Regions from separate parts of the Homo sapiens genome. Here region 2 is linked to region 1. A link means that fine-mapping ties the variant in region 1 to the expression of a gene that starts in the linked region. Tissue or cell type: whole blood. Region 1 holds a variant in brackets; the other region holds the start of a gene. All regions are shown on one strand. Distances are between the middles of the regions.

The links. PIP is the estimated chance that this variant, and not a neighbour inherited with it, causes the effect.
Region 2: YBX1 starts here. The variant in region 1 is fine-mapped to the expression of YBX1 in whole blood (INTERVAL, PIP above 0.99).

The regions. Positions count from the first base shown.
Region 1 is chr1:42,529,816-42,534,675 of GRCh38, forward strand. All of the region lies in intron 6 of CCDC30 (coiled-coil domain containing 30), which reads left to right. Among named protein-coding and RNA genes, the nearest start is that of CCDC30, 69 kb to the left of the region's middle. The variant T/G (reference allele first, on the strand shown) is at 2,395.
Region 2 is chr1:42,680,262-42,685,121 of GRCh38, forward strand. YBX1 (Y-box binding protein 1) reads left to right here and starts at 2,157. Exons shown (of 8, transcript NM_004559.5): 1 at 2,157-2,470; 2 at 3,142-3,205. The coding sequence starts at 2,305. It also overlaps a transcript of PPIH not described here. RefSeq lists an enhancer at 1,813-1,862 and silencers at 2,303-2,502, 2,693-2,802, 2,913-3,062.

The DNA.
Region 1 (4,860 bases):
TTCCTTATCGCTGACTACAGTAGTTCCCTCTTATTTTCAGTTTCGCTTTCCACAGTTTCAGCTACCTGCAGTCAACTGCAGACTGAAAATATTAAATGCAAAATTCCATAAATAAGCAACTCATAAGTTTTAAGTTGTGAACCATTCTGAGTACCATGATGAAATCTTACACTGTCCTGCTGGGATGGGAATCATCCCTTCGACCAGTGCACCTACAACATACACACTGTATACCCATTAGTCATGGGCATTAGTCAGCCTGCTCCTGACATGCAACCATGGACATCATCATGGCTCAGTGATCCAAGATCACTCAAAGCAGATGACTCTACTTTTCAAGTATCATCAGAAGGTCAGTAGTAGTCTAATGCCATGTCATAATGCCTAAGTCATTCACCTTCACCTCATTATTTAGGCATTGTGCCATCTCACATCATCTCAAGAAGGATAAGTACAGTACAATAAGATATTTAGAGAGAGACCACATTCACATAACTTTTATTACAGTATATTTTTATTATTATTGTTGCTAATCTCTTACTATGCCTAATTTACAAATAAAACTTTATCTTAGTTATGTATACATGGAAAAAACAGTACAGTTGGCTCTTCATATCTGTAGGTTCCACATCTCCCAATTCAACCAATCATGAGTTGAAAATATTAAAATAAAAAATAACAATACAACAATAAAATAATATAAAATTTAAAGTATAGAACAGGCTGGCCATGGTAGCTCACTCCCAGCACTTTGGGAGGCTGAGGTAGGAGGATTGCTTGAGCCCAGGAGTTTGAGACTAGCCTGGGAAATATAATGAGACTCATCTCTCAATTTAACATTTTAAAAATAGTGTAACAACAATTTACATAGCTTTTACATTATATTAGGCATTGTAAGTAATCTAGAGATGATTTAAAATATATGAGAGGATGTGTATAGGTTATATGTAAAATACTATACCATCTTATATGAGGGACTTGAGCATCCATGGATTTTGGTATCTTCAGTGATCTTGGAACCAATCTCCCTCAGATATCAAGGGAGGACTGTATAGAGGGTTTGGTACCATTGGGAGTTTCAGGTGTCCACTGGAGGTTTTGGAACATATCTTCCAAAGATTAGGGGGACTGCTGTACTTTATTTTCTGTTTCTTACAAAAAGGAAGTAAAAAGATGGTGGTATTGTTTGGATTTGTGTTCCCACCCAAATTTCATGTTGAATTGTAATATTAAATAAAAACCCCAATGTTGGAGGAGTGGCCTGGTGGGAGGTGATTGGATCATGGGGGCACACCTTCCTCCTTGCTGTTTTAGTAATAGTGAGTGAGTGAGTTCTCACGAGATCTGGTTGTTTAAAAGTGTGTAGCACCTCACCCTCTCTCTCTTCCTCCTGCTCTGGCCATGTAACACGTGCCTCCTTCCTCTTCCCTTTTTTGCCATGATTGTAAGCTTCCTGAGGCCTCCCCAGCCATGCTTCCTGTAGAGCCTGAGGAACTGTGAGTCAATTAGACCTCTTTTCTTTATAAATTACCCAGTCTCAGGTAGTTTTTTATACTATTATAAATGCAAGAATGAACTAGCATAGATGGTGTACTGGTTAACTTCATATGTCAACTTGACTGAGGTTTGGGATGCCCAGATACCTGATTAAACATTATTTTTGGGCTGGGCACAATGACTCACACCTGTAATCCTAGCATTTTGGAAGGCCAAGGCAGGTAGATCACTTGAGTCCAGGAGTTTGAGACCAGCCTGGGCAACATGGCAAAACCCCACCTCCACAAAAAAATACAAAAATTAGCTAGGCGTGGCGGCGCATGCCTGTAGTTCCAACTACTCAGGAGGCTGAGGTGGGAGGATTGCTTGTGCCGAGAGACAGAGGTTGCAGTGAGCTGTGATCATACAACTGCACTTCAGCCTGAATGATAGTGAGATCATACTATATATATATAAAATCTTCTGTTGGTTCTGTTTCTCCAAAGAACCCTGTCAAATACAGATAGAAACTAATATATGAGTCTCTTCAGTGTTGTAATGACTCTCCTGGGGGTTTGACATAACTTATTTTAACAGAAATTCAGAGAGGGTAGGTATTGTTCACCCTGATTTACACATGAGAAAACCAAGATCACAGATTTGTAAAATGTGAAAGTCAAGATTTCAAATCTCAACCTAACTACAAGACCTATGTTTTGGCCGGGTGCAGTGGCTCATACCTATAATCCTAGCACTTCGGGAGGCCAAAGTGGGAGGATTGCTTGAGCCTAGGAGTTTAAGATCAACCTGGGCAACATGGTGAGACCCTGTCTCTTAAAAAACAAACAAAAAAAGACTTAATGTTTTTGCCATCGTAGTTTCCAAACTGTGTTCCAGGGATCTTTGATGTTTCATAAA[T/G]AGAAAGCTGTGGGTCTTCTACCTCCACATCAGTCAGAGAAATCTCCACTTCTGGGAACTCTGTAAAGGGCTTTTCCATAAGAATTATTATGAAAATAAAGGGGAGATGGGAGTCCTGTGACTTAAAAAGGAAAAATAATTTAGGAAATCATTCCCTTATATCAAGCACTCTTCTCAAGATGTAACTGTGTTCCTTACCCATTTCTCTATGGAGACAGACTTATCACTAAATAGACCATCTTAGTGCTGTTATTACACGTGTTCTCAGAGAACATGCTTAAAATAGAAGAAATGCTAGGTATCTGGTAGGAAAATAATAGCCACAATATATTGAGCATCTATCATGTGTCATGATCTGTTCTAGGTGTCTAACAAACATAATCTCATTTAATCCCAATAACAGCGTTAGAAATAGACCTTGGAGTTGTAAGGAAAATGAGCACTTAGATAAAGGATTTTTCAGCAAAGCAAATTTACTTTTGTGCAGGGGGGTGCCGCCCATATGGCTGGTCGTTATGAGAGCGTATACAATAAAGGAGGGTGAAAGTTTTTATTTATTTATTTATTTATTTTTTGAGACGGAGTCTCCCTCTGTCGCCCAGGCTGGAGTGTAGTGGCACCGTCTGGCTTATTGCAAGCTCCGCCTCCCGGGTTCACGCCATTCTCCTGCCTCAGCCTCCCAAGTAGCTGGGACTACAGGCGCCCGCCACCGCGCCCGGCTAATTTTGTTTTTGTATTTTTAGTAGAGACGGCGTTTCACTGTGGTATCGATCTCCTGACCTCGTGATCCACCCGCCTCGGCCTCCCAAAGTGCTGGGATTACAGGCGTGAGCCACCTTGCCCGGCCAAAAGCTTTTAGTTTTGACGTAAATCTTGTCCCTGTGCCCTTTCCCCACTGGGTGGGGTTGGACTGTATAATTTAAACTAGACTTGATTGGATAAACATTTAAACTTTTTTTTAGATAAGGTGGGCACGTAAGGGAGAGAGGAGAGAGAGGGAAGGGGTTGTCTGTGGCAAGTTAGAGAGTCAGTTTTTTAAAAAATAAGGAAAGGAATGTGAGCTGGTGTTGATAACGTCACTGGTGTTGTGGCATGCCTGGGCATGTAGTAAAAGCAGAAAGAAAGAAGAAGAAAGAGAGGTGGAGGGGTATTGAGAATTAAAGAATAAAGGATTAATTAGGTTGGTTGAAGAGAAACCTTGTCATATTTTACACAGCCCTCCCCAGAGTAAGCAGGAGTATTCCCATTACATATTTGTGAGAACTTAAGGGAACTTGACCAAAGTAATAGTTGCAGCCAGGAGCTGATCCAGGTTTATCTGGCCCCAGGGCTCATTTTCTACACCATAACAACTCTTGGGGCAACTTACAGAGGAGATTTATATAGGGGACTTATTATAACTCATGAGGGCTACAGCATACCCAGCACTGAGCACATAAACCGCTTCCACCTACAGGTGATGACCAGGCAGTATTTTATTTTCTACAGTGCCTGCATTCATCTTTTCATTTGACTGTGCCTGTGAGAGGGCGCAGCACAACGCAAGCACACAGTGGGACGACAATAAAACTTGTCATACTATGCAGGGAGGCACAGTTTAGTTCAGAGCATTAGGTGATCCCCACCTTTCAGAGAGTAGAACATTGAAAGTGGAAAATTCTGAGCTGTTACACCATCTCCAGAGTCGTTGGTGGCTACCCATGCTAAGTCATTAGTCCTCTTTGCTTACTGCTGGCTGGCAGGTGAGGTAGGCTCCCTCAAGCTACTCAGAGATCTCTGTATCCTATTGCTCATCTCTCACATTATTTATTGCCCCTTTCTTGTGTTTTTCTGCTTTAAACTTTGGTTACTGGGCTCATTAAGTATATAAATTGCCTAAAGGCATAACTATATTCAATGTGCCACGTATTATGGTAAATTTTAAATATATATTCTTTGGGAAAGCTATCTTTTAAAAATTATAGCATTGAAATACATGACATTCTTACTCTAGGAAAAGACAAAGAAAATGAGGGGGGGGGTTCATATTTAAGAGTTGAGATGTTTCTTCTACTTTGTACTGAAGCATCTCAGGTGCCATAAGGGTGGGGCTAAAGGAATTCTTGCCTTGAGTGTTGAATGCATCAGCATGTCATGTGTGAATCTGAAAAAATATTCACCAGTGCAGATGGTGGCTGATGGGAGAAGGTACTCTGGGAAAAAAACATTTATTCTTCTCCATTTCCTTGTGCAGTGCTGCTAAGCTGACATGATTCTTGACTACATCTTTTGTCCATACCACTGGACAGGAGGAATTATAAAAGTTACACTAGGATTTTAGTATCCATTTTTCTAATAGCATTCCCCATTCTTTCTAACTCATCAGCTTTGGATTGTTATTTCTGTTTTATTGACATTAAACATAAGAAAGGTAAATTAGTAGTTTGATTAATTCAGAACAATCAGGATTCTGTAGTGTATTTTTCT
Region 2 (4,860 bases), 150 kb after region 1:
TGGCTGGAGAGTTGCAAGTGTCTATTCTGTAGGGCCCTTGTAATATTTCACCATCTCCCTTGTCATCTGATACACTGAAGCAACACTTTTAACCAATTTCTATTTTCATAGAATTCAGCTGTTTGCTACCTCTGCTCCTGCAGTATCCTGCAGCCAGTAGTTACAAGCACCTGGAAGGTTGGACAGGGAATACAAGAGAAGACTCTAAGACTTCTCTTAGAAGTCATAGAGTCCAGTAAACCACATTATGGAATCTGGACTACCCTAAGGGTAATAGTAGTCACTGGAAGATTTTAAGTAAGACAGTGTCATGATCAGATAGATGTTCTCAAAAGAACTTTCTGGCTGTTGTGGTGGGTAATATTAGAGTAAGAAAGAGGTAGAGAGGTGTGGTTAGTAGCCAACAGCACTGCTCTATGCTAGGGGTCAGCCGACTACACTCCGTTTTTCTGTGGCTCATGAGCTAAGAATACAAATGGTTTTTAAAATGTTTAAATAGTTGAAAATATGTAAAGATTCGTGTCATGTAAAAATTAAGGCTGTTTTCAAGCTCCAAACCTGAGTAGTAAGTCAGAACCATATGGTCGGCCAAGCTTATATTATTAACTATTTGGCTCTCACAGAAAAAGGTTCCTACCCCTTGCTCTAAGCAATTGGTGATGATGGCCTACAGTAGTGACAGTAGGAATGAAAAGACTCTGAATTGACATTTAGAGGGTTTAGGACTGACTCAAGAACGCCTTTAGGAGGTGGAACTCACAGGCCTAGACGGCATTGGTAGGGGTAAGGAATACTGCATTAGCCTCCTAACTGCTTTCTCTACTTCCATTCCTTGCCCCTCTGCAACCCATTCTCCACTCCGCAGCCATTTTTAAAAAGATGCCCCTCCCTACTTATGACTCTAAAATTGCTCTTCTCACTCTTCCCCTCAGGATATATTTCCAATTAAATATACCTAAGTGACTGCCCACCTCTGCAACCCAATGTCACATTCGAGTCTTACTGAACTACTTGACTGCATTTCCCGAGATCTCACCTCTTCTCGCCTGTACCCTGTGCGCGGAAAGTCAGCCCTCCACCTTCTCCCTGCTTCCACTCCCAAAATACTTCGTGGTTTTGCAGCTCTGGAGTATTTACCGTGTTGGCTGTTTAAATTTCTGCCTCCATCAGAAGGCAGAAACTGACTCGCGAACTATTCCATCCCCAGCCGATAGTAGACGCTTAAAAAAGAACGAAAGAAGGTGGGTGGAGGACTTCAGTAACATCAGGTGGCAGCCTCAATTTTATCGTTTGTGAAACGTGGATAGTAATCCCTCTATCACGTGGCTGTTGCAGGAATAAAGTGAAAAAACAAAACAGGCTAGCTTGTTCAATAAATGTGAGTTGAATTAAATCTGATTTGTGGTCAGTAGAAAAAGATGTGAATACTTGGAAAGGAAGACACATTTTTTTAAATATATGCCTGGTAAAACGGATCAGAAGGCAGGTCCCCATGGAGCACACCCTCGCCCTAAACATGCTGAACCCGGGCTGCCATAGCCTGCGTGGTCCCTCCAAGGTGACTGCTCCGACAAAAGGGTACGCTCTTCAAACGCATACGTTTAAGGCAATTCCAGAAACCCTCGGCTGTGCCGCGACTACACGGCCATTAAAGAAAAGACGACTCTATGCCCGCCGTAATGTTCTCAGATCACAGGGACCGTATTTGGAGCTGGGAGGGAGGGAAGCCTTTTCTTCACGGGGGGCTAAGGCGTCTTCGAGCCCCCTTCCAATCCCGGGTCCGGCCGGGTAATCCCTGCCCAGCGTTCGGGCGTGCCTTTTTTTCAGCCGAGACACAACCCTGAACGTGGGGCCCGCCAGCCCGGCGGCTGCCTCGTGGAAGTCACGTTCCTTCTGCCCGTCCTCTCGGGTACTCTATGGTTTTCGTGGCCGACTACTCTAATTCTAGTTCCGGTCTCTATGGCGGCCGGCGGAGGCAGGAACGGTTGTAGGTCGACTGAATTAGCCGCCAAAGGTCCAATGAGAATGGAGGACTGATAAAATATTAGCCAATAGAAGCTAGGGATTGGGGTCAGGTGGGCAGATTGACAGTACCACTGGCCAGTGAACAACGCCTAGGGCGGGTCGCTCGTAGGGCTTATCCCGCCTGTCCCGCCATTCTCGCTAGTTCGATCGGTAGCGGGAGCGGAGAGCGGACCCCAGAGAGCCCTGAGCAGCCCCACCGCCGCCGCCGGCCTAGTTACCATCACACCCCGGGAGGAGCCGCAGCTGCCGCAGCCGGCCCCAGTCACCATCACCGCAACCATGAGCAGCGAGGCCGAGACCCAGCAGCCGCCCGCCGCCCCCCCCGCCGCCCCCGCCCTCAGCGCCGCCGACACCAAGCCCGGCACTACGGGCAGCGGCGCAGGGAGCGGTGGCCCGGGCGGCCTCACATCGGCGGCGCCTGCCGGCGGGGACAAGAAGGTCATCGGTGAGGACCGGACAGGGACGGGGGTGGGGCCCTCGGGCAGCCCAGCAGCGGAACCGTTAGCCGGAGCTGGGCGAGCCGGCGGGCGCGCGGCCGGTGGGCACCGACTCCGCGGCGCGCGGCCGCCCATCCCCCCCGTCCCCCCCTCACTCCCTCTCGCGGGGACCCGCCCGGCAGGCGCGCGCGCACTGCCTCCCGCGCCCCCTGTGGACCCCGCGCGGCCGCGCGCCCCTCCCCCTGCGGCCGCGCGCCGCCGACCGCGTGTGCGACGGGGTCCCCTCCCCGCCGACCGGCCTCGTGCGCTCGGGCCCGCACGCCGTTGTTCGCGTCACCCCCACCCAGCTCCCTTCCGCGTGTGCTCGGAGGGCGCGGCGCACCGCCTACGCAGGCCGGAGCGGCTTCCCCTTCCCTCACGTGCTCTCCGTCCGCGGCCTGCGCACACACCCATCCTGGGGCCCGCGCCCCGGGCCTGCCCTGGAGCGCCCCGCGCTTCAGACTCACCCACGTGTGCGGCGGCGGCGGCGACTGCGTGGCCCCGCACCCGGGCGGTGGAGAGAAAGGGCTGTCAGGTGGCCGCGGCGGCCGGCGTGCGAGGGACCGGATGCCCAAGCCGGGCGGATTTGGAAAAGGATAGCTGGTAATCGTGGCTTGTTTTGCTTTGTTTTCTTTTCCAGCAACGAAGGTTTTGGGAACAGTAAAATGGTTCAATGTAAGGAACGGATATGGTTTCATCAACAGGTGAGCTGCCGGGCTCTGAAGCCTCCATCCCACCTTCTTGCTTGCTTCCTGCTCTGTCGGCTTCTCGGGGCTTGGGAAGCCCCAATCCACAGCTCTGTTCTGAAAGGCGTTTACTACCTCTGGTGTATTAGTATGATTTTTTGTTGTTGTTGTTTTCCTTGATTAGGGATTAGTGGATCTAGAGAATGCCTTTGTTTTGCAGCTAAATATTAATTTGAAGCTAACTTAAAAGGCTTCGTCACAGTACAAAGCAATTCAAAAGGCAAGCGGAGTGAATGAGCCATTCCTTAACAGGGTAAACGGGAAACTACGGTCCAGTACATTTTTATCCTTGTCATCTTTTTCTACTTTATTGAACTCGGTATTTGAGAATGTGATCCACTGACATCGGATATTTATACATTGTTAACGTTTTAGGGTAAGAGGATTTGACTATATGAGGTTTTGTCATCTTTACCGAGAGGTTGTATTGCCTTTGTTTCACGTTTCATTTTAATACCTGAGATAAATTTTGTCTTAGCACAGCTTTGACCAGAGAGAACTGTTTTTATTTGCTCATCCAGTAAATAATATATTTACAAGAAAGTGGTTTTTTTTCCTTCTTCCGTTCTTATTTTTCATTCTTCCTTGTCCTAGAATCATAACTGGTTAAGTCGATTTCTGTTAGATCCCTGGCTGTAGCTTATTAGAGTGGCCATAGTCACTGGTAACTTGACATTTTTCTTCCTGTTTGAAGGCAAAGCTGCAGACACGTCTTTAGGACTTACCCTTCGGGTTGTTTGTAGGAGTGGTGGTGGTAACGTGCAGTAGACGCACTGTATTCCATGGGCTCCCTTGTAAGCCGGGCATCATTTTCAAGATGGCTGCCAAGGCTAGTAGTGCTAGTTACATGGGTGCAGAGCACTGGGTATGCCAGTAGCAATCTTGGCCTCACAGGTATGGTACTTAGTGCCATCTCAGCATTGTCTTGCTTGCTTACTGTAGAAGACCTAAGCAGATGATTAAAAGAACAATGTGGAATGGACAACAAATGGGCAAAATCAAGCTTAAGGACAGAATCATTGCCTGATGAAAAACTGTTCATTAATCAATCATAGAGTATTGTGGAAACACTCAGAGTAAGAGATAAGCATTTGGTGATCTATTCTCTACTTTTGCAATTGTGGGAAAATATTTTGTTTCTTCCAAAATCTTAGGATTTTCCATCTTGTTATATACTGTTTGCTTTCCTGGCTGGCCGAAACTACGTTTTTCATTAATTTTTTGATAATGGCTTACTAGCAAGAAGGAAGGGAATGCTTATATATAATTGGCATACTGATAGCTTTTTAACTGATCTCTCTGAACTTTCTAGTGTTTTAGTTTGTATTTCTGTCTTACTCTGATTATCGTTACTAGTCTAACCCTTAAACCAGTGGTTTTCAAATTTAAGTGTGCTTACCTTGGGAGGGTGTGATGTAAGTGGTGAGTTCCTCCTTCTGAGCCTTGGATTCATTAGGTCTGGGTACATTTTTAACAGGAATGATAATGGTCTTCGGGCCATACCTTCAAAATCACTGCTTTTAACCCTTGACCCAATGTAATGGTAACTCTGGTGTGCAAATTTGCAGCCTTTTCAGCGGATAGATTGCAGGTTTTGTATGTGTTGAAGAAGT